Linked DNA regions of Homo sapiens: regions 1, 3, 4, 5, 6 and 7 are each linked to region 2. Evidence: fine-mapped expression QTL. A gene starts in region 2. Each other region holds a variant in brackets. All regions are shown on one strand. Distances are between the middles of the regions.

What was found. PIP is the estimated chance that this variant, and not a neighbour inherited with it, causes the effect.
Region 1: its variant is fine-mapped to the expression of TBC1D9B in whole blood (INTERVAL, PIP 0.98).
Region 3: its variant is fine-mapped to the expression of TBC1D9B in whole blood (INTERVAL, PIP above 0.99).
Region 4: its variant is fine-mapped to the expression of TBC1D9B in whole blood (TOPMed, PIP above 0.99).
Region 5: its variant is fine-mapped to the expression of TBC1D9B in whole blood (TOPMed, PIP above 0.99).
Region 6: its variant is fine-mapped to the expression of TBC1D9B in whole blood (TOPMed, PIP above 0.99).
Region 7: its variant is fine-mapped to the expression of TBC1D9B in whole blood (TOPMed, PIP above 0.99).

Annotation. Positions count from the first base shown.
Region 1 is chr5:180,146,195-180,150,591 of GRCh38, forward strand. All of the region lies in intron 1 of RASGEF1C (RasGEF domain family member 1C), which reads right to left. Among named protein-coding and RNA genes, the nearest start is that of RASGEF1C, 61 kb to the right of the region's middle. The variant C/T (reference allele first, on the strand shown) is at 2,704.
Region 2 is chr5:179,905,999-179,910,395 of GRCh38, forward strand. TBC1D9B (TBC1 domain family member 9B) reads right to left here and starts at 1,899. Exons shown (of 21, transcript NM_015043.4): 1 at 1,706-1,899. The coding sequence starts at 1,823. RefSeq lists an enhancer at 853-1,630 and silencers at 1,511-1,560, 1,611-1,750, 1,761-1,820, 1,891-2,050.
Region 3 is chr5:179,525,157-179,529,553 of GRCh38, forward strand. The region is part of intron 4 of LOC128966623 (a long non-coding RNA gene); the gene reads left to right. LOC100289470 (chromosome 5 open reading frame 60-like) reads left to right here. Exons shown (of 4, transcript NR_171571.1): 4 at 1-18. Among named protein-coding and RNA genes, the nearest start is that of RUFY1, 23 kb to the right of the region's middle. The variant C/T (reference allele first, on the strand shown) is at 2,709.
Region 4 is chr5:180,071,227-180,075,591 of GRCh38, forward strand. RNF130 (ring finger protein 130) reads right to left here and starts at 533. Exons shown (of 9, transcript NM_018434.6): 1 at 230-533. The coding sequence starts at 476. RefSeq lists an enhancer at 207-914 and a silencer at 804-883. The variant G/C (reference allele first, on the strand shown) is at 1,628.
Region 5 is chr5:180,057,687-180,061,686 of GRCh38, forward strand. All of the region lies in intron 1 of RNF130 (ring finger protein 130), which reads right to left. Among named protein-coding and RNA genes, the nearest start is that of RNF130, 12 kb to the right of the region's middle. RefSeq lists an enhancer at 3,438-4,000. The variant G/C (reference allele first, on the strand shown) is at 2,486.
Region 6 is chr5:179,878,717-179,883,113 of GRCh38, forward strand. It overlaps TBC1D9B (TBC1 domain family member 9B), which reads right to left. Exons shown (of 21, transcript NM_015043.4): 8 at 912-1,073; 9 at 331-481. Among named protein-coding and RNA genes, the nearest start is that of MRNIP-DT, 22 kb to the left of the region's middle. The variant CCT/C (reference allele first, on the strand shown) is at 2,082.
Region 7 is chr5:180,025,292-180,029,291 of GRCh38, forward strand. All of the region lies in intron 2 of RNF130 (ring finger protein 130), which reads right to left. Among named protein-coding and RNA genes, the nearest start is that of MIR340, 12 kb to the left of the region's middle. RefSeq lists a silencer at 2,338-2,632. The variant G/A (reference allele first, on the strand shown) is at 2,137.

The DNA.
Region 1 (4,397 bases), 240 kb after region 2:
TGCAGTGGCACAATCTTGACTCACTGCAACCTCTGCCTCCCAGGTTCAAGTGATTCTCCTGTCTCAGCCTCATGAATAGCTGGGACTACAGGTGCATGCCACCACACCCGGCTCATTTTGTATTTTGTATTTTGGTACTTTTAACACGGTTTCACCATGTTGCGCAGGCTGGTTTCCAACTCCTGAGCTCAAGTGATCCGTTCAAAGTGTTGGGATTACAGGCATGAGCCACTGTGCTTGGCCAGCTATGTGTTTTTCATATGTGACTTTTATTATGTTGAGGTAGTTTCCTTCTATTCCAGTTTTTGGAGTACTTTTTTTTTTTGTCATGAAAGGGCATTGAATTTTGTTTAATGCTTTTTTCTTCATCAATTGAAATGATCATGTGTTTTTTCCTTCATCATGTTAATCTATTGTATTACATTGATTGATTTTCGTATGTTGAACCATCTTTGCATTCCAGGAATAAACCTCCCTTGGTTGTGGTGTATAATTTTCTTTAATATGCTGCTGAACTTGGTTTGCTAGTATTTTGTTGAGGATGTTTGCATCATAAGGGATATTGGTCTGTAGTTTACTTCTTGTAGTGCTTCTGTCTGGCTTTGGTATCAAGGTGATGCTGACCTCATAAAATGAGTTAGGAAGTGTTTCTGCCTCTTTAATTTTTAGGAAAAGTTTGAGAAGCATTGGTGATGGTTCTTTTTTAAATGTTTGGTAGAATTCACCAGTGAAACCACCAGGTCCAGGACTTTTTTGTTGTTGGAAGGCTTTTAATTACTAATTAAACCTCATTATTAGTTATAGGTCTATTTACGGTTTCTAATTTTTTTTTCATGATTTCAGTTTCTAGGAATTTCATCTAGAAATTCCAATTTGTTCAAATTTCCAATTTGTTGGCATATAATTTTTTATAGTACTCTTATAATCCCTTTAATTTATGTGAATTGGTAATAGTATCCCTACTCTCATTTCTGATTTTAATAACTTCAGTCATCTCTTTTTTTTCAGTCAGTCTAGCTAAAGGTTTGTCAATTTTGTTAATCTTTTTGAAGAACCAACTTTAGGCTTTTTAAATTTTTTTCTATTGTTTTTCTATTCTCTTTTATTTATCTCTTCTCTAATCTTTATAATTTCCCTCCTTCTGCTAGCTTTGGGTTTAGTTTGTTCCTCTTTTTCTAGCTCTTTACATTGTACAATTAGGTTGTTATTTTGAGATCTTTCTTCTTTTTTAATGTGTTTACAGCTATAAATTTTCCATTAAGGACAGTTTTTGCTGTATCCCATGTTTTAGTATGTTGTGTTTTCATTTTCATTCATCTCTAAGTATTTTCGAATTTCCCTTGGGACTTGTTCTTCAATGCATAGGTTGTTTAAGAATGTGTTGTTTACTTTCCACAAATTTGTGAATTTTCCAGTTTTCCTTCTATTATTGATTTCTAATTTCATCCTGTCATAGTTGGAGAGGATACTTCATATGATATCTCTCTTTTAAAATTTATTGAGGCTTAATCTGTGTCCTAACATATGGTTTATCCTGGAGAATATCCCACGTGCACTTTAGAAGACTGTGTATGTTGTTGTTGAGTAGAGTTCTGTATATGTCTGTTAGACCTAGTTGGCTTATTGTGTTGTGTAAGTCTTTTATTTCCTTACTTATCTTCTGTCTGGGCATTCTATCCATTATTGAGAGTGAGGTAGCAGCTGCTGAAATAGCTTAGTTGGGAAAGCATTAGACTGGAGAGTGAGGTATTGCAGTCTCTGACTATTACTATAGAGCTGTCCATTTCTCCTTTCAATTCTGCCCATTTTTGCTTCATATATTTTAATGACCTGTTTTGGGGTCATAAATGTTTATAATTGTTAAGTCTTCTTGCTATATTAAATTTTCATTGATATGTGATACCCTTCTTTGTCTCTGGTAATCCTTTAAAATTTAAAGTATTTTTTCTGTTATTAGTATGGCTGCTCCCACTCTCTTTTTGTTACTGTTTACATGGAGTATCTTTTTCAGTCCCTTCATGTTTAACCTATTTATGACTTTGGATCTAAAATGAATCTCTTGTGGACAATATATAGTTGGATCTTTTTTAAAAAATCCATTCTGCCAATCTTTGTCTTTTGACTAGAGAGTGTAATCTATTTCCTTTTTAAATAATAACTGTTAAGACAGGATTTACTCCTGCCATTTTGCTGTTTTTTTTTTTCTATTGCCTTGTATCTTTTTGTTCCTTATTTCCTGCAGTACTGTGTTCTTTTTTTGTGGTGAAACATTAATTCCTTTCTTGTTTCCTTTTGTGTATATCCTATAGCTACTTTCTTTGTGGCAACCATGGGAATTACATTTAACATCCTAAAGTTACAACACTCTAATTTGAATTTAGACCAGTTTAACTTCAGTAGCATTCAAAAACTCTGCTCCTATACAGTTCTGTCCCCACCCTGTTAGTTACTGATGTCACAAAATTACATTTTTATTATGTTCAAAAGCACAGACTTAATACTTATTTTCTTAATGTATTAGTCTCTTAAATCATGTAAAAAAAAGGTAGAGTTACAAATCAGTTATCATAATACCAGCTTTTATAATTGCCCATGGATAAATCTTTACCAGATATTTTTGTTAACACAGCTTTGAATTACTCTTTAGTGTCTTTCATTTCAACCTGAAGCACTTCATTTAGTATTTCTCCTAGGTAGGCCTTG[C/T]GGTAGTGACTTTCTTCGATTCTTGTTTATCTAGGAATGTCTTAACTTTGTACTCATTTTTGAAGGACAGTTTTGCCATACATAGGATTCTTGGTTGACAGGTTTTTTTACTTTCAGCATTTTGAATACATCAACCGATTGCCTTCTGGCCTCTAAGGTTTCTTTTCTACTTTTTCTTTTCTTTTTTTTTCTTTTTTTTTTTTTTTTTTGAGACAGAGTCTTGCTCTGTCACCAGGCTGGAGTGCAATGGCACAATCTCGGCTCACTGCAAACTCTGCCTCCTGGGTTCAAGTGATTTTCCTGCCTCAGCCTCCCAAGTAGTTGGGACTACAGGTACACACTACCACGCCCAGCTAATTTTTGTATTTTTAGTAGAGACGGAGTTTCACCATGTTGGCCAGGATGGTCTCAATATCCTGACCTCATGATCTGCCCACCTCAGCCTCCCAAAGTGCTGGGATTACAGGTTATAGGTGTGAGCCACTGTGCCCGCCAAGGCCTCTAAGGTTTCCGTGGGAAATTTCTTGATAATCTTACTGAGGATCAGTTTTTGTTTTGTTTTGTTTTGTTTTTTGAGACAGAGTCTAGCTCTGTCACCAGGCTGAAGTGTGGTGGCACAATCTTGGCTCACTGCAATGCACTCCAACTCCCTGGTTCAAGCGATTCTCCTGCCTCGGCCTCCCAAGTAGCTGGGACTACAGGCATGCACCACCACGCCCAGCTAATTTTTGTATTTTTAGTAGAGATGGGGTTTCACCATGTTGGCCAGGATGGTCTCCATCTCTTGACCTCTCGATCCACCCGCCTCGGCCTCCCAAAGTGCTGGGATTACAGGCGTGAGCCACTGCGCCCAGCCGAGGACCCCTTTTATGTGATGACTCACTTCTTTCTTGCTGCTCTCAATATTCTCTATTTGTTGTTGTATTTTCCAGTTTGATTATAATGTGTCTCACTGTGGGTCTCTTTGAGTTTATCCTACTTGGTTCACTGGGTTTCCTGGATGTTTATATTCATGTTTTTCATCAAATTTGGGAAGTTTTCAGCCATTAATTATTCAGATAATCTCTCTATACCTTTCTCTCCCTTCTTTTTCTGGGACTCTCACAAAGTGTATGTTGGTCTGCTTTATGGTATTGCTTAGGTCCTGTAGGTTCTGTTCACTTTTTCAATCTTTTTTATTTTCCTGTTCCTCAGACTCAATAATTTCAATTGCCCTATCTTCAAGTTTGCTGATTCTTTCTTTGACCTCCTCAGATCTGCTTTTGAATACCTCTAGTGAATTTTTCATTTCAGTTATTGTACTTTATAGCTCCAAAATTTATTTTTGGTTCCTTTGTATGTTTTTCTGTCTCTTTATTGATAGTTCCATTTTGTTCATACATCTTTTTCTTGACTGCTACTTCACGTCTTTGCACATCTTTAGGACAGTTGTTTCAAAGCCTTTGTCTAATAAGTCTGTCATGTAGTCTTTCTCAGGGACAGTTTTTGTTGATTTACTTATTTTTCCTTCAAATGATCCATGTTTTCCTGTTTCTTTATATGCCTTGTGGTATTTATTTTGTAGAAAACTGGACATTTGACTCTTGCAATGTGGCAACTCTTGAAATCAGATTCTCCTCCTTCCCCAGGGATTAAAAAAAAAAAAATGTTGGCTGGGTGCTGTGGCTCACACCTGTAATCCTAGCACTTTGGGA
Region 2 (4,397 bases):
CCTCCCGAGTAGCTGGGATAACAGGCGCGTGCCACCATGCCTGGATAAATTTTATATTTTTAGTAGAGACGGGGTTTTGCCATGTTGGCCAAGCTAGCTATTCAGATTCTTTAATGAAAAGTCTAGGTTGGCATGTTTTTAATAGATGGCTTGGATAAAACCACATCCCTGTCTGCTCCTCTTCAGGGAGGACAGTACTCAGGAGGCCACGATGCCCATGATGGCACAGGGAAGGCCCTGTCAGAGGGCACAGCAGGACACACCAAACCTAGCAGTGGGGAGAGATTGGGAGAGGGTTCAAAGAAGGGTTCCCTTGGGGGGACCCTGGGAGCTCGGTCCCAGGGGACACGGAGAGTGAGGTGGAAAGGAGAAGAGCCCGCAGGAAGGAGGTGTACAGAGACCGGGCTGCACCTGCACCCGCCCGTTCAATGAGACGACCCACATAAGCCTGCCGAGCACAGCACAAGTGTTTCAAGTACACCAGCGAATATGACACACTGGCGCGCTGATGACACCCTGGCGCGCTGGCGGAAGAAAAGGTGCCGGTCCCTCGCTTTCTTCATCGGGCTTGCAGTAGCTTCGAGGTTAGCCACAGGGGCTGCCGACTGAACAGCTGGATCTAGGAGGCGGGTCCAGAACAGGAGCCCGAGATCCTTGAAGCCCACTGGGAGGGAACCCGAAGCTGAAGGGAACACTGAGTGTTTCTGGGAACAGAACAGTCTCTTCCACATGAAGAAACGTGGCCCAGGAGAAGCCTCCGTCTGCATCTGGCTATTAGCTGCTCACACTGAAAATCAGGATGATTCACAGAAAATGCTCTTGATAAACTGGACGACCTGGCAACACTGGGACCGCAATCCTGTAGGGCAACAGTCGGTGCCCCGAAGAGCACAGGCACTGAGCCCGAGCCAGCCGGGCTCCTGCAGTGCTGGGCGCAGGCCCTGGAGCATGAGGGGCCCCGGACACCACCTGCGGAGGGAGTGGCCTGTGGGCCTCCCCTGGATCCCACAGGCCGCACGACTCCAAGGGTGCCTGTCCAGCTTCATCCTGTGTGATGGTGGCACCCGGGCCCACAAAGGGCCACCTTGGCGAGCTTGCAGGAACACCCTGTGCCGCTACCCACAGCCTTGGGTGCGCAGCTCTGAGAGCAGCCAGGAGCAGGAAAGGTGGGGGAGGAGAAGCTGGGGGAATGGGGGTGCGGCCAGCTCCAGGGACCTCTGATCTTGCTAAAAGGGCGATACTTTGGTGAGATGGGCACGAAGAAGAGGGCAAAAGAAAACGTGCGCTGGCGTCACCTGGCCCCTTAGAGGCACCTGGGGAAACTGAGGTGGAGGATGAGGACAGGGCGGTCTCGCCAACTTTCGGCGGTGAGATCCCGGGAAGCTGCACGGCCCCCGGGGCTCGCGGGCGCCGAATCCGGGCAGAAGCCGCCGCCGGTCTCCACTTGGCCGCCCCAAGCCGACCTGAGGAGAGCCCGCCGAGGGCGCATTCGCCTCCCGCCAGCCCCTCGCCTCCCCGCCCCGGCCCCTCCGCGCCCGGCTCCCGGGTCCTGGCCTCGCGCCCCCGCCCCGCCGCGCGCTGGCGTGCGTGTCCGCCGCGACGCGCCGAGGCCGGGCCGGAACCGGACCCGCCCGCCGCCCGCCGCCAGCCCCGCCGCCAGCCCAGCCGCGGCGCCCACAGGCCCGGCCGCCCGCGCGCCTCTCACCCGTAAGGCCGCCGCCCCTGCCGTGGCCCCGGCGTCGCTGCAGCACGAAGAAGGGGTTGGCCCGCTCCGTCACCCACAGCGCATTGGCCACCAGCACCTCCTCCGGGCTCAGCCACATCGCGGAGCCGCTCGCACCGGGCCGAGGCCCGCGAGACGGAAGCGCCCGCCGCCGTCGGCGTCCCGGAGCGGAGCGTGCGGAGCGGAGCGTGCGGAGCGGGCCGGGGCGGGGCGGGGCCGGGCGGGCGGCGCCCCCTGGCGGGCGTGTGGCGCTCCCGCACGCGGCCCGAGTTCCGCGCCGCCCCCTCAGCCCCGGCCTCGGGCGCGCGCCAGCCTGGCCTCCTGGAGCGGTGCAGCCCACGGCCTCCGGCCTGGGTCCAGAACGGAACGGCCCAGTCCGCAGACAGGGGAGCCGCTGTGCAGAGCAGGGCTTCTGGCGTTTTGAAAGCTGTGCAGTGTGAGAGAAGGATGTCAAGAAGCAGAGTTTGGCGGCTTTTGGCTGGTTGCGCGTGCAACCCGGGGCGTGTTAGCACTGCAAAGGGCGCCTGGAAAGGGTTTGCAGTTCCTCCTAATTCTCAGCTTTCTTTTCTTTTTTTTTTTTCGACAGAGTCTTGCTGTGTCGCCCAGGCTGGAGTGCAGTGGCGCAATCTCAGCTCACTGCAACCTCTGCCTCCCGGGTTCAAGTGATTCTCCTGCCCCAGCCTCTTTAGCTGGGATTACAGGCTCCCGCCAACACGCCCGGCTAATTTTTTTGTATTTTTAGTAGAGACGGGGTTTCACCATGTTGGCCAGGCTGGTCTCGAACTCCTGACCTCGGGTGATCCGCCTACATTGGCCTCCCAAGTCCTGGGATTACAGGAGTGAACCATCGCGCCCGGCCAGTTCTCAGAATTCTGACACTGGGGCCGGGAGACTAGAAGAATCTTCCAGCGCAGGGCAGGTGCCAGGAGGCCCTGATACGGGCTGCATCCTTGGAAATCAGTGCTGCCCCTCCCCTGACAGACGGGTCACAGAGGCTGGCCGGCCCTGGGGATGGGGTCTGGACTGGCCCTGGGCCCAGTGGCGGCTTCTGCGCAAGTGTGAGGCTGGCTGCAGGCGAATGCGGGTCCCTGGTCTCCCAGTGTTGGCCTGCAGGGGCAGCGCCAGTCCACACACAGCCTTCTGCATGAGGGGGCTGTCAACTCCACCTGGGACAACGGGCCTGGGGCCTGTCCGGGGTCGACTGGGATGTGGGGTCACCCTGCTGGCTGGAACCCTCACCAGGGTCTGGCTAGAGGGCAAAGGGAAGGGGGCAGTTAAACCATCCTTGGAGCTGGACCTGACTTCCAGGTGGGTTTCTGTGATTGGCACTCAAGAATCTTGGTGCGATGGATGTAGGTACATGCAGTTGACACCCAGAGTGATCTGCAGTCTTCTTCAATGTTGCTGGATATAGGAATCAGCTTTCAAGATGCAGAGGCGGGCTTTCTTCAACACCTTGGAAGTCTGAACTAATATTGTCATTGTGCTCTCTAGAGGGAAAGAATTTGGAAGAACTGCACTTTTTAACACCCTGAGAGGAGGTAAAGAGTCGTCTTGTTCCTTAATCCCAGTGGTTCTCAAATTGGGTATACATTAGGATCACCTGGAAGGCTGATTCAAACAGGCTGCTGTAGTCCCAGCCACTTGGGAGGCTGAGGTGGTAGGATCACTTGAGGCCAGGAGTTCAAAATCGGCCAGGGCAATATAGCAAGACTCCATCTGAAAACAAAACAAAACAAAAAACAGCCACACAGGTTGCTGCCCCCTCCCTCCCAGGGTGTTTGCACTGCTAACTCGTTCCTAGGTGATGTTGATGCTGCTGACCTGGAGACCACTCCTCGAGAATGGTTTTTTATAAGAAGAAAAAGAACAAACATTTATCGATCACTTAGTATGTGCGTGCTAAGCTTACTTCTTTTTGATTTTCTGAGATATAAGTCACATTCCGTAACGTTCACTCTTTTAAAGTGCAAAACGTAGTGGTTTTTAGTATATTCACTAGGCTGGGCATCCATCATCACTAATTCCAGAACATTTTTATCAAGTCAAAAGAAACCCCTTACCCATTAGCTGCCATTCCCCACTTCCCCCCGGCTTTGCCCTGGCAACCATCAATCTATTTTGTCTCTATACATTTTTCCCATTCTAGCCATTTCTTCATATAAATGGAACCTTACAATATGTGGTCTTTTGTGTCTGTCTTCTTTCACTTCCCATCATGTGTTCGAGGTTCACCCACGTTGTAGCACGTATTGATGCTTCATTCCTCCTTATGGCTGAATAGTACCCCACGGTATGGATGCACCGCATTTTATTCATTTGGATGGACATTTGGATTGTTTACCCCTCGTCTATTATAAATAATGCTGCCATGAACATGTGTACAAGTCTTTGTGTGAATATGTGTTTTTAATTCTCTTGGGCATATATTGAGGAGTGGTATTGTTGGGTCATGTGGTACAGCTATGTTTAACTTTTTAAGCAGTGACCACACTGCGCTCCAAAGCAGCTGTAGCATTCCACATGCCCACCAGCTGGGTGTAAGAGTTCTAGGCAGGGCGCGGCGGCTCACGCCTGTAACCCCAGCACTTTGGGAGGCCGAGGTGGGCAGATCACAAGGTTAGGAGATCAAGACCATCCTGGCTAACACGGTGAAACCCCGTCTCTACTAAAA
Region 3 (4,397 bases), 380 kb before region 2:
AGATTTTCAAACAAATAAGTCAAATGTATGGCAGTATTTCTATTTTATCCTATGGCAAAATAATTCTTCCTAATTTTAATATTATTTTGTTCCTTAAAATTTAATACCTTCAAATGATATTACCTATGTTTCCAGGATTTGACAAAGTCTTAATGTTCAGCCAACATGGCTTAAGCTGATGAACTACTTAAAAGGATTCTTTTCTTTTTTTTTTTTTTTTTTTGAGACAGAGTCTCGCTCTGTCACCCAGGCCGGAGTGCAGTGGTGTGATCTCGGCTCACTGCAACCTCCACCTCCTGGGTTCAAGCGATTCTCCTGCCTCAGCCTCCCGAGTAGCTGGGATTACAGACATGCACCACCACAGCTGGCTAATTTTTGTATTTTTAGTAGAGACGGGGTTTCACCATGTTGGCCAGGCTGGTCTCGAACTCCTGGCCTCAGGTGATCCACTCCCCTTGGTCTCCCAAACTGCTGGGATTAGAGGCGTGAGCCACCAAGTCCAGCCGGAGGATTCATTGTTTAAATAATTCTAAGAAATGCACATTTTCCAAGACTCAGGAGGTCAGGCTTCATTTTATATTCAGTAAAGGGTTTAAAAAGGATGTGATGCTCCAAATAAACTGAAATCTTACACAGCTTCTCACGGAATGTGTGCCTGAGACAGACGCACAGCCATCCCAACTACTGGGAAGAGGCGTCTTATCATCCGAATTGAAGAAAGTGTCCATTTAGTCAACATGTGTATTAGAATAATGAAAGGCCTCACTACTTATATGCCCAGCACTTTCTAAAGGGTGCACTTTGGTTAGACTGTGTATTTCTTACTGCTCATAAGTAACACATTGTCGTTGGCTTGTTAAAGTCTGCTTTAATATCATCTGTCAAGTATGTGTCACTGGTGAAGTCTCTCAGATTATCCCTCAGGGTGAAAGCATCACACTCCTTTCTTCAAAAGGAGCAAAGTCGACACGAGGGCCCTTGCAGCCAATTTGTTCCAACAAGAACTTCCCTCCTATTCCTTATAATTACAAATTTATACCTATTATATTTTCTATTTTACTCCCTTCAATGTCATTGAATCTCAAAATGATGAAACACGGTCATGAGTGTCCTCTAGTACACCACTGGCTTGTATTCTTTTTATAGTGTGCCAGATGTTTAATCATCAGAAAAACGGACCAATTAGGAAAGATTTCCATATAGAAAATACATTACAGAGTACTGCACCCTTTTTAAACTGACTTTTTATACAGGTTTAAACTAAATGATCATGTCTTTTGACTTAAAGTTGTTTGGGGTAGCCACAATGTCTGAAAACAGACTACTGTCCATAATAAATAGTTTATTGTTATGACATGTTTAATGTGCTGCCCCTCACTAGGAATTCTTAGTTCAACAGGTTGTGCAAAACCGCAATGCATGGTGTGCCTTAAAGCAACGTTCCCATCATCTGCTGCACCTGCGTCCACCATACATTGCTGCAGATGATTTATGTGTCCAACTTCCCGGGTGTAAACTTATGCCTTTACCCCAGAAGAATAAGTGGGTTCAATCTATTAGAAAAATACTGTCAATATTTCCAGACTTCTTTATTTTTGGAGACAGGGTCTCACACCCAGGCTGGAGTGCAGTGGCACATCACGGCTCATTGTAGCCTTGAACTCCTGGGCTCAAACGATCCTCCTGCGTCAGTCTCCCGAGTAGCTGGGACCAACAGGTATGTGCCACCATGCCTGGCTAATTGCTTTTTTTTTTTTTTTTTTTTTTTTTTTTGGTGGAGATTGTGTTGCCTAGGCTGGTCTTGAACTCCTGGCCTCAAGTGATCCTCCCACCTCAGCCTCCCAGAGTGTGGGATTACAGGCATGAGCCACCATGTCTGGCCTTGGTTTTGAAATAGATATTTATTTAAAATAGGTTTCACACTGATTTCAATAAATCAGGCACTCCAGAACACAATGTATAGGGTGGCAATTATATGTTGACTTCTTAATACTCCAAGAGATAAAGATCTTTTCCAAATAAGCAAAAAAAGTAGTCATTGTGCAATATTAGCCTCTAAGAGCAATTTCCCTTTATAGACTACAATATTACTGACAGTTTCATGCACTTTTGCTTTATAAAGAACTCCACAGGAAGAAATTTCCCCAGTCTTTCCCGGTAGACACAGCTACATTTTCTGTCACACACAAACCATTGTCACAGTACAGCATGTCCAGATCCAAAGAATCAAGGGGTTTCACAATTGCTTCCCCAATGTATGCCATGAGGTTGGTCAGATTTGAAACCATTCCCGTGACAGGATCAATCTTTATAATTGTGCCCCTGCCGTATGGATGGTTTGCATTTCCCAAACAGGAGTGTCCTGGGTTACTCAGAGGTGTGCCATGGAGCCCTCCCTTGGCCGTTTTATAATAACCAGAACAGCCCATTTCCCCATGGACACACATTCCAAGCTCTCCACAGCCCAGTACCACCGTTATGCAAAGGATATGGATGGAACTCACATTCAGAAAGCTAGAAAATAAGGCTGTGCCAGGCACAGTAGATGAGCAATGAGAAGATGCCAATGTCTTTTCTAGAAGCATGAGTGATCCAGCTCTTTGGTTCTGAACATTTCTGTGCTTTAGCGTTTCTCTCCCTCATTCACAGTAAAGACATCTGCAGCTCTTCCCTCCTGAGATAAGAAACTGGAACAGCCACCACCTGCT[C/T]CCTGATGTTTTCACCATCTCTGCCACTTGTTACAACGACCACTTAGCCAGACATCTCGGCGCAGGGATCCCCCTTAAACTGCAGAAGCAAGACCAGCCCACCACCCTTTCTTTTTATTCCTGCCATAATTTGATGCTAGTAACACTCTGCCTACCTACTTCCAATGGTAACAAATATTTTGTAGAATATGCAAGTTTATTTTGTAGATTGTGGTCCCTGGAGTGAGAGAAACTCTCCACCTACCAGACCTGTGACTTAGGTAAGTCACTCTGTGTCTCCAAACTTAATTTCCTTGATGTGGAAAATGGGGATAGAAGTTAATAACATTGCAGGAAAGGGGACATGAGTTATAATATAAAACTCTCTGCATGGTTCCTATTGGATAATTTTGCTATTATTATTGCTTGTATTTTTGTCACATTATAACCAACTTAGTTTTACTTGTTAAAGTACACACAATTGGGTTTTTTTAAAAGAATTAATTTAATTTACTAGCACAAAAGCTAGTGTTAAAAATAGGTGTTAAAAATTGAGTCCCGGCAGGGCACCGTGGCTCACGCCTGCAATCCCAGCACTTCGGGAGGTCCAGGCTGGCAGATCACTTGAGGTCAGGAGTTTGAGACCAGCCTGGCCAACATGGTGAAACTCCATTTCTACTAAAAATATAAGAAATAGCCGGGCGTGGTGGCTCGTGCCTGTAGTCCCAGCTACTCAGGAGGCTGAGACAGGAAAATTGCTTGAACCGGGAGGCAGAGGGTGCAGTGAGCCAAGATGGCGCCACTGCACTCCAGCCTGGGCAACAGAGTGAGAATCTGTTTAAAAAAAAAAAAGAAAAAAAAAGTGAGTCCCATCTGATAAACCGAATATTTAAGTAAATTTGAAATATTTTTTGCCCCATGATATTTAGGGGTTTCTACTAATTGACTTTGATGTTCAAGGGCTGTTTTGTGATCCCAAAGCCATTGCCACTTTTACTTTGAACAAGCTGGACTCATGGGGTACTCCAGAGCCAACTCTGTTTTCTCCACGCAGCCTGCTCCTTGCTGCTGGTTCTGAGTCCCTGAATGAAATCTGGGATCTTCATGGCTTACCTACTTACATTCAGGAAAATAAAAAAAAAATCCTCCAGTCATCTCCAATAACAAGAAGAGGTCTGATTTCACTCATTAAACTATGCAGTGTGATGTCATAGCCAAATGGCCACACCGCATTGGAGAGCCAAGTTTTCTCTCCCAGAACAGCCTGCCTGGGCGCGGGCCACCATGCCCGGCTAATTTTTGTATTTTTAGTAGAGACAGGGTTTCACCATGCTGGCCAGCCTGGTCTCGAACTCCTGACCTCGCGATCCGCCAGCCTCGGCCTCCCAAAGTGCTGGGATTACAGGCGTGAGCCATTGTGCCGGGCCACTTTTCTTTCTTTCTTTTTTCTCTTTTTTTTTTTTTTTTGAGACAGAGTCTCGCTCTGTCGCCCAGGCTGGAGTGCAGTGGTGCCATCTCGGCTCACTGCAAGCTCCGCTTCTCAGGTTCACGCCATTCTCCTGCCTCAGCCTCCCGAGTAGCTGGGACTACAGGCGCCCGCCACCACACCCGGCTAATTTTTTGTATTTTTACTAGAGACGGGGTTTCGCCATGTTAGCCAGGATGGTCTCCATCTCCTGACCTCGTGATCCACCTGCCTGAGCCTCCCCA
Region 4 (4,365 bases), 170 kb after region 2:
GACCGTTCCAAGTCTTTTTTAAAAGAAGGGAAAAACCCAGTCACGCTCCTGGAGCCTGGTTCCCACGGGAGCAGGCCGGGCTGTCCACGACGGAAGCCTCGACCCTGGCTGGGGCTGTCGGCCGGGCAGCGCGGGAGAGCCAGGGCCAGAGCCGGGGCCGGGAACCCTAGTCCCGCCGCCTACGCGGGATGCAGCGACCACCGCCCGCCGCCCCCGGGCCGGCACTCACCTCCGTGGAGGGGCAGCGGCGCCAGCACCTGGCCGCGGACCTCGGCCTTGGGGGAGTCAAGCCCGTAGCGCCCGCGGTCGATGCGAAACGTGAGCGGGGCGCCGCGGCCGGGCTCCTGCACCGTCACGTTGATGAGCGCCGTGTAGTACTCCTGGCTCGCGTTGTCTGCCCGTGCCGGCCACAGGCTGCAGGTCAGCAGGGCGAGCGCGGCGAGCCGGGCAGGGCCCGCCCGCCCCGCGCAGCTCATCGTCCCTCCGGCAGCCGCCGCTGCTCGCGGACCGGGCTCCGGGGCCGGCGCCTAGAGGCGGGGCGGGCGCGGCCCGGGCGGCGGCGGGAGCGCGCGCGCGCGGCCTGCGCGGGGCCGAGCCCGAGCGCGGCCCTCCTGGACGCCGCGGCCCCGCCGCTCGCCGCCCTCACGTCCACTGCCCGCCTGTGGGGACGCGCCCATGGGCCCTCGGCGAGGGCGGCGTCTCAGGTCGCACGCGGGCGTCTCTTCGGGGTCCCAGGAGGGTTGTAGAAGCGTGCCCCCTCCATCCCCCCGGGTCGGTCCCACCGAATGGGAGGCGCCTCGCAAGGACGCGGCGGGGGAGGGGAAGGGCGGCACGGGAGGAAGCGCCCCGAGGAGGGTCAGCGGAACACAAAGTCCCTCTCGCGCGGCTGCCGCCTGAGGCGCGTGTCCGCCGCCGCCCCGCCCCCCCGCTGGTCTAGCGGCAACGCGCAGGCCTAAGGCGCAGTCCCGCCCCGAGCGCATGCGTGCCAGGGCCTGTCCGCTCCCGCCCGCCTGCACGAGGGCCCGGGCAGCCGGGTCAGCCGCTGGTGCTGGTTGTTTCTCTGTCAGGCGTGATAGCCGCAGGGCGTGGAGCCCGGGAGATTTGCGAGGACGTATGGAAATGTGTGAGAACAGACTACAAAGGAAAAAAAGCCATAACTTTAAAAGAAATGTTTAAAATTAAATGTCATGAGATTTAACATTCACGTCATGCGGTTGACATCATGGATGGGGGATGTCTCTGGCCCGGACCTGCAGGGACACGAGTGGTTGGGAAAGACCTCTAGGGTAGCCGTCCCTAACCATTTTGGCACTGGGGGACGGGTTTCCAGGAAGAGAGTTTTTCCAGGGACTGAGGGAGTTGAAGTGGTTTCCGGATGAGGCTGCTCCACCTCAGATCATCAGGCGTTAGATTCTCGTAAGAAGTGGGCAACCTAGGTCCCAAGCATGCGCAGTTCACAGCCGGGTTCACGTTGCTATGAGAGTCTAATGCCGCCCTGATCTGACAGGAGGCGGAGCTCAGGCGGTGATGCTCACTCACCTCCTGCTCGCTTACTGGTTCCTCGAAGGCCCTGGGCCGGTACAGGTCCGCGGCCGGGCGGTTGGGGAGCCCCTGCTCTAGTGACTAG[G/C]TGAACTACTCCAGGGGCCCCCGGACCAGAGGGTTGCAGTGGGAACCCCCCCTCCACCTTCCGAAACGCGCGCGCGCGCACACACACACGACTCTCATTTTCTCTCTCCATGGCGTTTAAAAGATACACATCGCTATAAAGTATCAGCTAAAAGGAAGAATGGGGCAGTGCAGCCGAATTCAGGAACTTACAGGATCTTTGTGGGGAGGCGGAGGGGGAAAGTTTGGCGTCTTCTGACCAGCCAGGGTTGAGTCTCCTGTCTCCTACTGCGGGAAGTGGGTGGAGTCAGCTTTGCACAACCAAATGTTCTGAAAATCCGGAAAAGAGGTGGCTCCCCAAAAAGAAATTTGAGGCACTGTTTCCAGGAAAGGGTACGGATGCAGTGCAGGCTAAAACTTAAGATGCCCACCACTGGCCAGGCGCGGTGGCTCACGCCCGTAATCGCAGCACTTTGGGAGGCCTAGGTGGGCGGATCACGAGGTCAGGAGTTCGAGACCAGCTTGGCCAACATGGTGAAACCCCGTCTCTACTAAAAATAAAAAAATTAGTCGTGGTGATGCGTGCCTGTAGTCCCAGCTACTCGGGAGGCTGAGGCAGGAGAATCGTTGGAACCCGGGAAGCGGAGGTTGCAGTGAGCAGAGATCGAGCCACTGCACTCCAGCCTGGGCGACAGAGCAAGACTCCGTCTCAGAAAAAGAAAAAAGAAAGAAAACAGATGTCCACTATTGATGACTTGGCAGACATCCTTTACAATTTCTCCCTCCATTTCCCTCTCTTCCATCCTCTACCATAGTCCTTATAAACCGTGCCCTGGCCTATGGAGAACGGCTTTTACTTATTTACTTATCCTCGGCAAGTACAGACCCTAGGCCAAAGCAGCGGGGTCCTCGCCCTGGGCCTGGCACCTAAAGAGTGCTCTAATCTGGTCCCCTCCAGCTGGACCCTTCATAGGGCAAGGAGTCCTTAGCACCAAGGTACCCATGCTCTAGCACCTAAGACCCAGAAATTCCTTCTCCCCACAGCCCAGGGCCACATCTAGGGCCTGTGTAGGGCTCTTCCCGGTGACGGTCTCCTGCTCTTCTTGCTGGGCATGCCCTGGCCTACCCCTGCCCAAGAGGCTCATGGCCTCTACTCCTTTGTCCTTATAAAGGAGGAGTCTTCAAACTGTAAGGTGCCCATGACCCCTGGCACAAGAAACAATTATAGAAGCTCACAAGCACCACTTTGTTAATCAGGTGGGGAGGAAGTGGCTTTCTCAACCCTTCTGAATTTGTCAAGGAGAAAATTGGTTCCAGAGCACCTTTAACACTTCCCTGGCACTTGCTGATCTCCCCTTTAAATAAAGCAAGATGAGGTCTCGGTGCACAGCCTCATCACGCACCAGCATGTACGGCAACATTCACACCAGCCTGTACTTGGGAGTGGCATTGTCTTTTAAGGAAACCTCAAGGTTTTAAGGAGACCTTAGGGAGACAAGAAGTTTTTCATTTATAATAGTGATACAACGCTACCTTTTAAAATATTATGGTAAAATACACATAACATAAAATTGTCCATCTTAACCATTTTTAAGCATATGGATCAGTGGCATTAAGTACATTCACATCGTTGTGTAACCTTTGCCATCCATCTCCAGAACTCTTTCCATCTTGTAAAACTGAAACTCTGCACCCATTAAACGTTCCCCCTTCCCCAACTACCATTCTTCTTTTCTGTCTCTATGATTTTGATGATTCTACTTACCCGCATAAGTGGAATCATATAGTATTTGTCCTTTTGTGAGTAGCTTATCTTGCTTTGCACGATGTCCTTGAGGTTCACCTCTGTTGAAGTACGTATCAGATTTCCTCCTTTGCTAAGGCTGAATCATATCACATTGTATGTATATTCCAAGTTTTTTTTTAGCCATTCATCCATTCCACTGTATGTATATAATACACTTTGTTTATCCATTCATCATAGGACACTTGGTTGCCTCTACTGTTTGGCTATTGTGAATAATGATGCTATGAACATTGGGCGTATAAATATCCCTTCCTGCTTTCAATTCTTTTGTGTATATACTCAGAAGTGGAATTACCAGATCTAATGGTAATTCTATGCTTAATTTTTTTCAGGAACTGCCCTACTGTTTTTTTAATAGTAGCTGCCCCATTTTACATTCCCACCAACTGCACAAGGGTTCCAGTTTCTTCTCATCCTTGCCAACACTTCTCTACTTCTTTTTCAAAATAGTAGCCATCTAAATGGGTATTAGGTGGTCTCTCATTATGGTTTTGATTTGCATTTCCCTAATGATTAGTGGTGCTGAACATCTTTTCATGTGCTTATTGGCCATGTGTATATCTTTACACGATGCTATCTTTTAAAACATTTAAGAAAAAAGTGAATTAAAAGTATTGGTTAAATAAAAGTACGAGTGGTTTTATCGGACATGGCAGGTCTCACGGAGGATGTGTGCCGCAGTCTGGCTCTGGCCCACGCTGGCCTGTGAATGAGCTGCCCACGAACCTTTTTCCTTAATGGGGTTATTTCCCTGACTCCACCACGCACCATATTCCCCTGCCTCTGTGTCCATTTCTCAGCCTACAATAAATCCTAGGTCACCTGTAAGCCCCAGCTCAAAATCCCCTTCTCCCCAGAACTCCAGTGGGGCCCGAGCTGCCAGCCTCCCACATCCAGGCCCCGTAAGAGCTTCAGTCCTTCAGGAGGAGATCTGTCTCCCCTGTGAGCAATGT
Region 5 (4,000 bases), 150 kb after region 2:
GGGACCCTTCCAGACCTTACCCTATGTACCTCTCCATCCGGCTCTTAATTTGTATCTTACATAACACCCTTTATAATAACAGGGACAGTAAGTAAAGTGTTTTCCTGAGTTCTATGAGCTGTTATATAGCAAATTATCAAACTGAGTAGGGCGTTACGGGAACCTCCTGAATTGTAGCCAAGTCAAGACAGATGTGTGGGTACCCTTTGTCCCACTACCTACAACCGGTGTCTGAAGTAGGGGGCGGTTTTGTGGGACTAGGCCCTTTACCTGTGGGGTCTGCGCTAACTTTACCAGGTAGTTAGTGTCAGAATTGAATTAAACTGTAGGACATCCAATTGATGTTGAAAATCCACACATTTGGTATCAGAGTGCTGCAGGTAAAAAGCTGTCCTTTACACATAAGTTAAGGAACAGGTATAAACTACGGTGTCAAAGCGAGGACAGAAGTTACTGCTGGGGAGCGAGGAGGGAAGGAGCCGTGACTGGAAGGGACCTGAGGTGGTCTGCAAAGCTGGCCACACTCAACTTCTCCACTAGGTTCATGGCTACATCAGTGTGTTCATTCTGTGGGAAGTCATCAGGCTGCAGACTTACGGTTGTGTATTTTTCAGTGTATGTTACAGCTGGTAAAAATGTGTGCTAATTTTTAAAAATCTGGTCACTTTATTCCCCAGGTTAAAATTCTTCAACAGTATTTTAACACATGCTACAACACAGATGAACCTGAGGACATATGCTAAGTGAAATAATCCAGTTACAAATTATGAGGAACTAACCTAGTCGAATTCATAGAGACAGAAAGTAGAGTGGTGTTCGCAGGGGCTGCGGCAGAGGGGGTAATGGAGTCTTGTCATTTAATGGGTATGTTTTTATTTTTTATTTTTGAGATGGAGTCTTGCTGTGTCGCCCAAGCTGGAGTGTAGTAGTGTGATCTCGGCTCACTACAACCTCTGCCTCCCGGGTTCAAGCGAGTCTCCTGCCTCAGCCTCCTGAGTAGCTGAGACTACAGGTGCACACCACCACGCCTGGCTAACGCTAATTTTTGTATTTTTAGTGGAGATGGGGTTTCACCATGTTAGCCAGGCTGGTCTCGAACTCGTGACCTCAAGTGATCTGCCCACCTCAGCCTCCCAAAGTGCTGGGATTACAGGCTGAGCCACTGCACCCAGCTGGTATAATGGGTATAGAGTTTCCATTTTGCAAGACAAAGAGTTCTGTAGATGGGTCGCACAACAGTGGAAATGTACTTACCATGACTTAACAGTTAGATGGTCAATTTATACGTTATTTTACCACAATTAAAAAATCTTAAAACACCAACAAAAATCCCTCCAATAGTTTTCCATTCCTCTTATATAAAGTCCAAAATCCTAACAAGGCCTGGAAAACACTGACTTTTTCAACTCTACTGTGCCCCACTCTCCCCCTTACTCTCTAACTCCTTTCAAATTCCACAAGTACATCACAGTTTTTGCACCTTTTAGTCTTCGTGTATATTTCCTTGGACTGAAACATCCTCCTTTCTGCCCCCTCTCAGTGTAATATCTGCTCATGCTGCCGTCTCAGCTGAAACATCATTTCTTCAGGGACGCCTTGACCACCCTAGACTGAGTCTCTTCTGCCATTTATGCTCTCAGCATCCCGATGCTTTCCCAAGACTATGATTAAATAATCGTGTTATGACCTGTGTAACGGTCTGCTTTCCCCAGATAGGACACAAGAGCTGACTCCTTTTACTTCCCCCCACCAGACAGCAACAGCATGCAGGAACTTCCTGTCCTGTCTGGAACTCAGTAGGTGCTTAATAATTATTTGATGAATGAATACTTGAGGCAGCTGTCCCACAGGAATTTAGGATTTTTCTGATCCAGATGAATTAGTCTGCTGATAACATGCAAATGAGAAGGTGCATCACTGACCTTTAAGGAGTCATAGAAAAGAAATGTTGGAAAACCAACCCGTGTACAGAGCACTGATACGAAACAATGAAGGTGAGCCGTGAAAACAACTGACCCATTAGGGTCCTGCTAAGCCTTAGAAAAATTTCACAAATGATTACTGAAGGAATAATCTGCAGACAGTGTGAAGAGAAAGCTGTAATGGTGGGGTGCCAGCACAGGCCTGCTACGTGAGAGAGGCAGAACGACGGCTCCCTCAAAGACGTCCATCTCCCAATCCCCAGGACCTGTCAGTGAATACATCAGGTTACAGAGCAAGGGGGAACTAGGTTGCAGATGAAACAAGGTTGATCATCGGCTGACTTTACAATAAAGAGATTCTCCTGGACTGTCTGGGTGGGCCCAATGTAATCACAAGTGTCTTTTAAATGTGGGTGACAGACGGAGAAAGTCAAAGTCAGAGACTTGAAGATGGGGGAAGGGGCCATGGGCCAGGGAACACAGGCAGCTTCTACAAGCTGAAAAAGGCAAGGAAATGATTCCCCCTGAGAGCTCCAAAGCCACGCAGTCTTGCCAACACCTTG[G/C]TCTCACTGAGGCCAGTAAAACTCATTTCAGAATTCTGACCCCCAGAACTGTAAGAGGAGTAAATTGGTGTTGCTGTGAGCCACCTAGTTTTTGGTGATTTGTTACTGCGGCAATAAGAAACTAACACACCAAGGCTAAGCCATGAAAGATTCACTTCTTTTCCTTCCGTGCAGTGGCTCCTGGCCTAGCCAATCAGGAACAAAGTACATAGAGTATCCTTGTTTTTTCCAGCAAAGCATCTGATTATGTCTTTTATGGTATCATAAGCTGAAGAAACACATGCTAAATGCAAAGTCAATAAAGTGAGTTAGAACTCTGTGAAACGGCCATCCTTGAAGAGTGCTGATTAATGGAATAACGCCCAGCAGCCTAGATTTTTACCAACACACCGCGAGGGCCTGTCCGTTCACTTGCCAGCACTTCCACCCTAACTTAGCGCAGGGATTCTTAACTTGGGGCTTCAAGAGGCAACTGGCCTCCTAACCTTATTAAAAGTTCTGTGTATCTCTACATAAATACGTAGTCTTCTGGAGAAAGGTACACCGCTTTCATCACTTATCAAAGGGGATCTATAAAGCAAAAGGCTAAGAACCACTAACCTAGATGAAGATACAGAAAGCTATGTTCGGCCGGGCGCCTGTAATCCCAGCACTTTGGGAGGCCGAGGTGGGCGGATCACGAGGTCGGGCGATCGAGACCATCCTGGCTAACACGGTGAAACCCCGTCTCTACTAAAAATACAAAAAATTAGCTGGGCGAGGTAGTGGGCGCCTGTAGTCCCAGCTACGCGGGAGGCTGAGGCAGGAGAATGGCGTGAACCCCGGGGGGGCGGAGCCTGCAGTGAGCCAAGATTGTCCCACTGCACTCCAGCCTGGGCGACAGCGAGACTCCGTCTCAAAAAAAAAAAAAAAAAAAAAAAAAGCTATGTTCATGCATTCACTAGTGACACAAGCTGCTAGAAAGAGTAAAGACTGTGGGTGACGCATCAGGATTCAGCAAGTATCCTGAAAGGCTGAATGAAATGGCTGATGGCTTAGGAGCAGCCTCGGTGGAAAACACTGGAAGTTTAATCAACAGTGGGCTCAGGATGGTCTTTTGGAAAAAACCACAACAACTGACGTGACTTCAGGCACATCCAGAAGGATGAAGAAAGTATAGCTCGACTCTCTCCTGTGCTGGCAAAGCTAACCCTGCATGCCTGTGTTCAACGCTGGGATTCTCTTTGTATTAGTTTCCAGTGGCGGCCGCAAGACATCACAAACTTGGTGGCTTAAAACAACATAGTCTCATTGTCTCACAGTTCTGGGGCCCCAAAGTCTGGTGTGAGCAGGGCTGATTCCTACTGGAGGCTCAAGGGAAAAACCACCTCCAGCCCCTCTCCCAGCGTCTGATGGCTGCTAGCCATCCTTTGCACCCGCCGGTTTGTGGCAGAATGATGCCATCTCTGTAACCTCCTTCTTCCTATGGCCGCCTTCTCTGTGTGTCTTCCTGTATCTTTTCCTCTTCTTATAAGG
Region 6 (4,397 bases), 27 kb before region 2:
CTCTTCCAGCAACCACGGGTGTGAATGCTGTCAGAGCCTGTCCCAAGGAAAGGAGGCCTCTAGGGGACCTGTTTCCCTCCCGCTGTGGGCGGGAGGGCACCACCCGGCCAGCAGAGTGCCCATTCCCCAGCCTCTGTCCCTCGAGATGCTCCTTCTGGTTGGGTCCCGGGCCAGAGCCCAGAGCCCAGAGCCCGGCTCCCGGCTGTGTGAAAGAGCTGGGAGCTCCTGCCTGGCCAACTCCAGGCCGGCTCAGGACAGACGAGCTCACACGGGGAGAGCTTGGGGACTGACTGGCTGAGCTGAGGCTGGGGGTGGCTGCACCCCACTCACCGGAGAAGAGGAGCCACAGCTCTCCCCGGAGGCTCTCAGGGATACCCTTCAGGACCAGTGCCCGCGTCTTGGCTGTGCGGTACATGCACACGCCACGCCCGTACTCGAAGAAGTGGATGTGCCATGACTCCTCTTTCATCTTCTCCTTGGCCTGAGGGAAAAGCGCATCAGGGAGCCTGGGGGCCGAAGCGCATCTGAGTGCCGAGGCCTAGGCCACCGCGGAAGCCTCGTGAACACTCCAGACAGTGCTGGCCAGCAAGTGTGGCCTTCCTCGCAATTCCCGGGAAAGACCAGGCCGCGCTGAGCCACACCTCCCAAGGCTCAGGAGACCAGCTCCTCAGCGGGAGGGCCCTTCCCTTCAGAGGCCTGGAGTCCGTGGCAAACAGCACACTGAGCAGGTCAGCGGAGCCCCCCAGAGAGTGCCTGCTCCGTCTCACGCTGCCAGGGTGCAGCCTGGGTGGGCACTGCCCAGCGGTCAGCCCAGGGCCCTGAGGGAAGGCCCAGGCCCAGGACTGGCTCCAGCTTTCCTCCTGAGGGCTCCGCTCTTGACGGAGGCTGGAGTGCCGGCGCTCAGGGCTCACCCCCTTGGCTCCAAGGTCCTCCATGGGCGAGTTTTTCTGGAAGAGCTTCAGCAGGCCCTGGGATGCGGTTGGCGCCTCCTGCGCACAGAAGCTCTGGCGGCTGCTGAGGGGAGAGGCTGGGCTGGCGGGCTGCTCCGACCCCTCCTGAGGAGCTGGGGAAGACTAGAAAATAAAACAGGGAAGGGGACGCCCTAACAACTGTGCTGCCAGGTGGCCTCTGATGCGCCCATCCATCCAGAGCTGGATCGGGGCCCGGTGCAAGAAGGGCCATGGGGGCAAACGGTGCACGGAGAAGAGCCTGTCTGGCTGGGCAGGAGGCTGTGGCTGCAGCTCAGCCCTCAGCTCCTCTCTGGCTGCTGGACACCGAGTCCTCAGTAATTAACCCCACTCTCACCAGCGAGTCAGTCTCAGGGAGCGGGTTCTGGGCTCACCCTGTGGGGCCCTTTTCTGAGGGGGGTCAGTGCAAAGGACAGGAGAGGCCCTATCCTAACGTGGAGGCACACCCCTGCCCACCCTCGGGCCCATGCTTCCTGGGCTGCACAGAGGGCTGGGTGATGGCCTGTGATGTTGGGCTGGGCTCAGGGTGGGTTTAGGGCGACTGCGTCACCCGGTTGCTACCAAGGAAATGAGTGGCCCTTCTGCAGGAGTGTTGGGATAACCCAGGGAGCATGCAAGGCCTGCTGCTGCCATCATGGTGCCACACCGGCCTGAGAGTGATGCTGTCTTGGCAGAAAGCAAAGTCCAGTGGGGGAGAGCCCAGCTCGACCAGGGCCAGCTGACTGCCTGAACTTCTTGGCTGGGCAGGTGGTCGATTCCCCATGGTGGGCTCTGGCCTGGGCTGGGCTCTCTACCCCTCACACCCTCCCACTGGCTCTGGTCCCGTGGCCACGGTCCCACTCCACCCAGGGCTGGGGCAGCTGCCAGGGTGCTGGGCGCCCTCCTAAAACACTTCACATTCTGTGTTTTTTTGAGAGAACCCTGATCTTGACTGTGGTGATGGCTTCATGGGCGTATACCTGTTAAAACGTACCAAATTGTATTCCTTAAATATGTACAGTGTATTGCGTATCAATTTTACCTCAATAAAGTTGTTATTAATATAAAAGGAAAAAGGAAAAAAAAAAAGAGAGAACTCTGCTAGGTTCACACCCACAGTCTACCCCTCTGGCC[CCT/C]GTGATGTTAGAAATGGATTTTGGGTCCACTTAAACAAATGTTGACGACAAGCTGCCTGAATCCAGTGGGCACGGCCCCAGCGCAGACTGACTGCCTGCCTGGAGATCCTGCTTCCCACCTGAGCTCCCCCAGAGGGACCGACTAGGACACACACGGGCTCGCAGGCTGTGAGGTGCCTTGGAGGATCACACATCTCAGTGCCAGGGAAGGAGCCACACCGCCGGGTGTGTGGCGTGCAGCAGACGTGTGCTCCTGGCCAGGGAAGGGGCCAGACCGCCGGGTGTGTGGCGTGCAGCCAACGTGTGCTCCTGGCGAGGCGGCAAGCGTGGCACCAAGCTCAGGGACCAGGCGGCTTTCGGCAGAAGCTTGGCTCAAGTCCCACCTTACATTCGGGCTTACTGGCCTCAGGTGGGTGCTCAGAGCTGCCTGGGATCTTATGTATTCCTAGTCCAGTCCTCCCCTCTTCCCCGAGGTAACCACCTCACATAAACCTCCAAAACCACTTGCCATCCTTGCATCCCACTGAACCACACTTCTTCCTGTTTAACTGAGAACAGGGAACAATCCGAGCCCTCCACGGGTGCCCTCCTGCCCGCCCACCTGCCTGCACCTGGACCCCATCCCCTGCCTTCTCTGCAGGAGTCGCTCTCCCAGCACAGAACTGCACTGTTACTCCTCTAAAGCCCACCCTCACTTTGGCTGGGTGCTGTTCACCTATTATGCTCCCTCTGCTAAGATTCATCCAGTTGTACACCGTATGTTTACTTTTGGATATATATGTTAAACTTCAATTAAAATTCTAGCCCTCCCAGAAGTTACCTCCATTACTCTGTTGACCTTTATACAAAATTTCTTGAAAGAGATGCTTAATCTCACTGTCTCCTTTCCCCCTTTCAAGTTTTTTTCCCTGTTAGAAAGTGTATATTTATACTGTAACATTTTATGCTAATATCATTATATAGTTTCTTAGTCCTCTCTTTTTAAGATGTCAGTTCCCTACTACAAGCAATATTGAAATTAGCTAGCAGGCCTTTTCTTCCCACTTTCCTCCCTCTCTGCCAACATCTGATCAAAAGGATATATTTTTAATTAATAAGGCAATCAGTGAGCTTATTCTATTTTCCATATCTTTCCATATACCTTCCGTTTTTTTTTTTTTTTTGAGATGGAGTCTTGCTCTGTCACCCAGGCAGGAGTACAGAGGTGTGATCTCAGCTCACTGCAACCTCTGCCTCCTGGGCTCAGGCAATTCTCCTGCCTCAGGTTCCCAAGTAGCTGGGATTACAGGTGTGTGCCACCATGCCCGGCTAATTTTTGTATTTTTAATAGAGACGAGGTTTCACCATATTGGCCAGGCTGGTCTCAAACTCCCAACTTCAGGTGACCCGCCTGCCTCGGCCTCCCAAAGTGTTGGGATTACAGGCATGAGCCATCAAGCCCAGCCTCATATACCTCCCTAACCTCAGGTTTTGATTGTACTATGTCTCCATCATCAGAGATTATAACATTTATATACTGTCACCTCTATTCCTACTATCTAACCTTAATTCCACAGCTAAATATAATCAATGCTACCACCAGTCGTTAGGCCCAAGCTGCTTCCATCACTCCTTGGTTATCTGGAGTCTGTTCTCCAGCAGACTCCACAGAAGCTGAGAGAGCCCCTGAACTCCTCTGCATGTTCTTTACAGCCTATGGTCTTTATACCTGAACGTCAGTTTGGCTGGGTATAAAATCCCTGGGTCACAGCTTCTTTTATTGTATATCTTAAAAATGTTACTCTGTATAATCTCAGCACTCTGGGAGGCTGAGGCAGGTGGATCACCCTAGGTCAGGAGTTCGAGATCAGTCTGGCCAACATGGTGAAATCTCAACCCCATCTCTACAAAAAATACAAAAATTAGCCAGGCATGGTGGCACATACACGTAGTCCCAGCTACTCACGGGCCTGAGGCACAAGACTGCTTGAACCTGGGAGGCAGAGGTTGCAGTGAGCCGAGATTGTGCCACTGCACTCCAGGAGACACCCTCCCCAACCCCCAACAAAAAGTTACTCTAAAATGTTGTTACTGTATCACAAAGTCTGATACCTCTCTTGAGGAGGAATCTCTCAGGATCGTGGCCCATTGCAACCTCCTTCTCCCACCTCCTGGGTTCAAGTGATTCTTGTGCCTCAGCCTCCCAAGTAGCTGTGATTCCAGGCATGTGCCACTATACCTAGCTTAGTTTTGTATTTTTAGTAGAGACAGAGTTTCACCATGTTGGCCAGGCTGGTTTTGAACTTCTGGCCTCAAGTGATCTGCCTGCTTCAGC
Region 7 (4,000 bases), 120 kb after region 2:
AGTATTTCAAACCCATGTAGATCCTTTATATGATTTTACCTTCCTCCTCTTCTGCTGCCAGTGAGGAAAGAGAAGCACAGAAAAGACAAAAAAGTAAATCAAGTGACAACTTCAAACAACCCACTTGGGACACGGAGACTGCAAGGAAGGCTAGAGGACAGTCTCATGTATCTGCTGGTGAAGGCACTCTCCAGTTCCACTTCAGATTTAAAGAAAAAAGAAAATTAAGAGCTTATGGAAGTTTTAAAATGGAACCATTGCATTTATTTTATTAAAGGCTATTTTTATTTTTTTAAAGCTACTGCTTAAGTGTTTCAGTTTTAGATTTTGATAATTATGAATTTTTTTTAAAAAAATGTATGAACCAGATGGAAGATACAGTAGAAGCATGTGCAAACTCAGGCAAAAATATAAATGCAATTTAAACCCTTACTTCCTGCCACAGCAGTACACTTCAATTCCAAGCTCCATCTTTTCTGAGGTAGTTAAATCCATATTCAATTAGAAGCTAAAAAACTTTAAACGGTAAAACAATAGTATACTTATATTACTCATTTTCTTGATAGGCATTTAGAATAAAGAAAATAGATTTACGTTAAGTGGCCCAAATTACTGATACGTAAAGGTATTCTACAATGTGTTTGTGATTTCTTTTTACTTGTTTTCATAAAGTATTTTTTGTATTCACAGTGAATTTTCTATATTTTACAAAGTGTGACATTTTTCTATTCAATGCTAGATAATAAATATAGAGCTAAATACGTTTTTAAGAGAATATGATGGAAAAAAGGTGAAGAGCCATTCAACTAATTTTGTTCAACCATCCAAAAAAAAAAAAGAAAAACCCAGTAAGAAGCATCTGATATTGCTGATTGATAAAAAGATTAAAAAGCAACATTATTATTTGGTTACATGTTTATCTAAATTACCTCATCTTCCTTTCAACAATGGAAAGAATGTCCACAAAATTCTTACAGACATACAGATAAAACTACAGCTAATTCTATCAGACAGTGATTTAACACAACTTAAGATGATTAAACAATAACAGTAAAGTCTATATAAATCTTTAAAAACCAGGAAAATAAATCCATAATTTTCAGACAAGTATGCATTATTGTAAACTATCCAAGAACCCATAACGTCCCCTTCATACTACCACAGATCCGCTAACTACATGACAAAGAACTCACTCTGCTAACCAGAGGTAACAAGTGAAACCACACAATGAGTAGCCTTTCCTGTCAATGACGTCATGGACAGGGCACTGGAACAGACGTCCTTCAGTCACCAGGTGAAGGGCATGCTTTAGAATAAACAGGACCAAGCTCTTGGTTGACAAGGCAAGAAAACAAAATACTTACACTTGTATTGGTACATACAGTATATAGGGAATACTTATATTCCAATGTGGAATTTTAAAATTAGGTATAAAACATAGCCTTAAATGAAAAGAAAGCTTAACAACCAAACTAAATAACTTAATAAAATCATTTCAGAGCAAGCCATATTTATTTTGTTCAGGGCATTCTGCTGACCACTGCAGAGAACCGAAAGACATGACACAAACTTTAACTGCATGAAACCCTGGGCTTTTCCTTACTGCCAGTCCAGTATGCAAAGAATGACCACATGAAAGGAAAAGGACAATACTGTCATGGAGGCACAGAGAGGGCTCTGAAGACTGCAGGAGCCTTGGACTGTAAACTCAGTAAGGGCAATGATCCGGGTTTCTCTCCTTTTGACTTTTACCAGTTCTTACTAGTTCACATCAAAATGCACAGCACAGAGAGCTGCCAAACCACTGCTTCTGCCCTATGATGAAGGGAGGGCAAAACTGGCACAGGAGCAGGACGGGGTGAAAGCACGGGTCTCTGGGTCCATCCCTTGAGACTGTCTGGGGTGGGGTGGGGGGAGGATCCTGGAATCAGTGTCTTTCCAATTAGCTTATGTGATTCTGACACCAGGGTTCTTGAATTTCTGTAGACAGCACTGCCCTACAGGGTGAGAAGGGTTATCTGTGGAGGAAGGGAACTGAGTAACACATTGATGAGCCTGGAAAGCAAGGAGTTGCCAGTGTATAATGACCTTCTCTGAGTATAAGCAGAAACAGAAAGGCAGAGAGTTATGGCATAC[G/A]AAAGTCAGAAGAGGATCATAATTCTGGAGATTTACCGTGAATGCCTGGCTGAAAAGACGAGACTCAGAGAAGCTTCTGATAGTGTGTGTGTTCTCTGTGCTACTTAACCTGCACTTCTCACCCCATTCTTAGGACAGGCTTTCAGCTAGTGCAGCTCGCTGGACTGAAACAGGACCTTTCTATAACCACTGTCCCTCTCATCCTGAGCACCCACTCCATTAAGAACCCTAGCAGCCAGGACGCGTGCCTTCCTGCTCCACTCTTCCTCTCCACACGTCACCTGTGGGGCTTCTGTTGCCACCACTGGTTCCCTCCACACTCCCACCCAATGCTTCCTGCTGGTTTTCCAGGTCCCAATCAGATGGCAGAGAAGAAGCTAGGAACCCTGCTAGCTGCTTGAGACAGCTGCCATCATTCACTGGGGCTCCGGCTGCCCGGCTCTGTGGCTGCTGCCGGTGTGAGACTGCACACCCCAGTGCAGCGCTGGAAAGCACAGCTTAGGCCGCATCAACCTCATCGAGACCACGCCTCCCTTCTTTCAAATCCTCCCGTGTTACTAAGCGACAGTCCCTGCTTTAGGCACACTTCTGCTCTGAATTGAATTTACTATTACCCTATCCACCATGTTGAGCTGTGCTGTTTTTTTCCTGTACTTAAAATTACTTTTGTTTTGCTTTTCCCCACCTCAGATCCTTCACTTACAAGGGGCCTTTGGCCTAGAATACTCTTCTCAACTCCTCAACTCCGACTCGGATGCTGTTTCCTCAAGGCATTCCTCTCTGACCCCTTGGACCTAAGTCACTTCCCACAGTCATGACTTCGTACTCAATGTTCATCTTCTCTGCTTGTTATAACTCCATGGAAAGAGGCACCATGTGTGTCTTGTTTATGCTTGGAGCTCTAACAAGAGTTCAAAAAACAATTAGCATATAGAATCCAACTCCCTCTCTCTACTTGCAGTTACCTGATTTTCTCCATTTCCTTCCGACTCCCTCTCCTCTCACCAGATTTTTGATTCATGTGGTTCGTCTACTGAGAGGATTTTCTCTTTCTGGTCGAATCCTAAGTAATCCTCATTATGCAGGGCCTGGCACAATGAATGCCTCCTACATGAAGTCTTCCAGACCTGGGTCAGAACCCCTTTCGTAATAACACTACAGCTGATCCCGCTACGTAGGTATGCAAAGTTATGCACTGAGTGGTTCCCCAATTACTTCAGGCGTGTGTGTTTCCCTAAGGGAGGAAGTGTTCCCGGCAAACACTCACTCGTACATCCTTCTACAAATCCCTACAGTGTCCATCACAGAATGCCTGGCATATAGCAGGTATAAATCGATACCTGTTGATTAACTATTTTTTTGTACTAGATATATTTTAAACAATTAAGTTATATGGAAAAACACCAGGAGAATGAAGAAAAAGTATACTTAGAAATTTTTTTAAAGTGCCAATCTCAAAATGAAAGAAAAATTGATTTCATAATTTTATAAAAGCTACTGCTTATTCCAGGCATAAGAAAAATTGTACAACTGTTATACATTACAGTTTGTTAGCTCAATAAATTTTGCAATCACCCTCTTTTAGGTAGACGAGGATGCCAGTTTAAGGACTCCGTTACCCGAAATCACAAAGCTGATAATCAACTTGGTCTAAGATTCAAATCCCAATCTTGTGACTGTTTGACATTTATGCCAAATTCTTTTCTCTATTTTAGAGGTACTATATCATCCAACTAAAACATTTTTTTCTTCTATAACTAAAAATGATTGAGAATGTCATAAAAAATTAAAATCTGTGATAAATTATTAAATATGATTTTGGAAGATGAACAACCAGAAGAAACTGAGACAGCTATGGAAACAG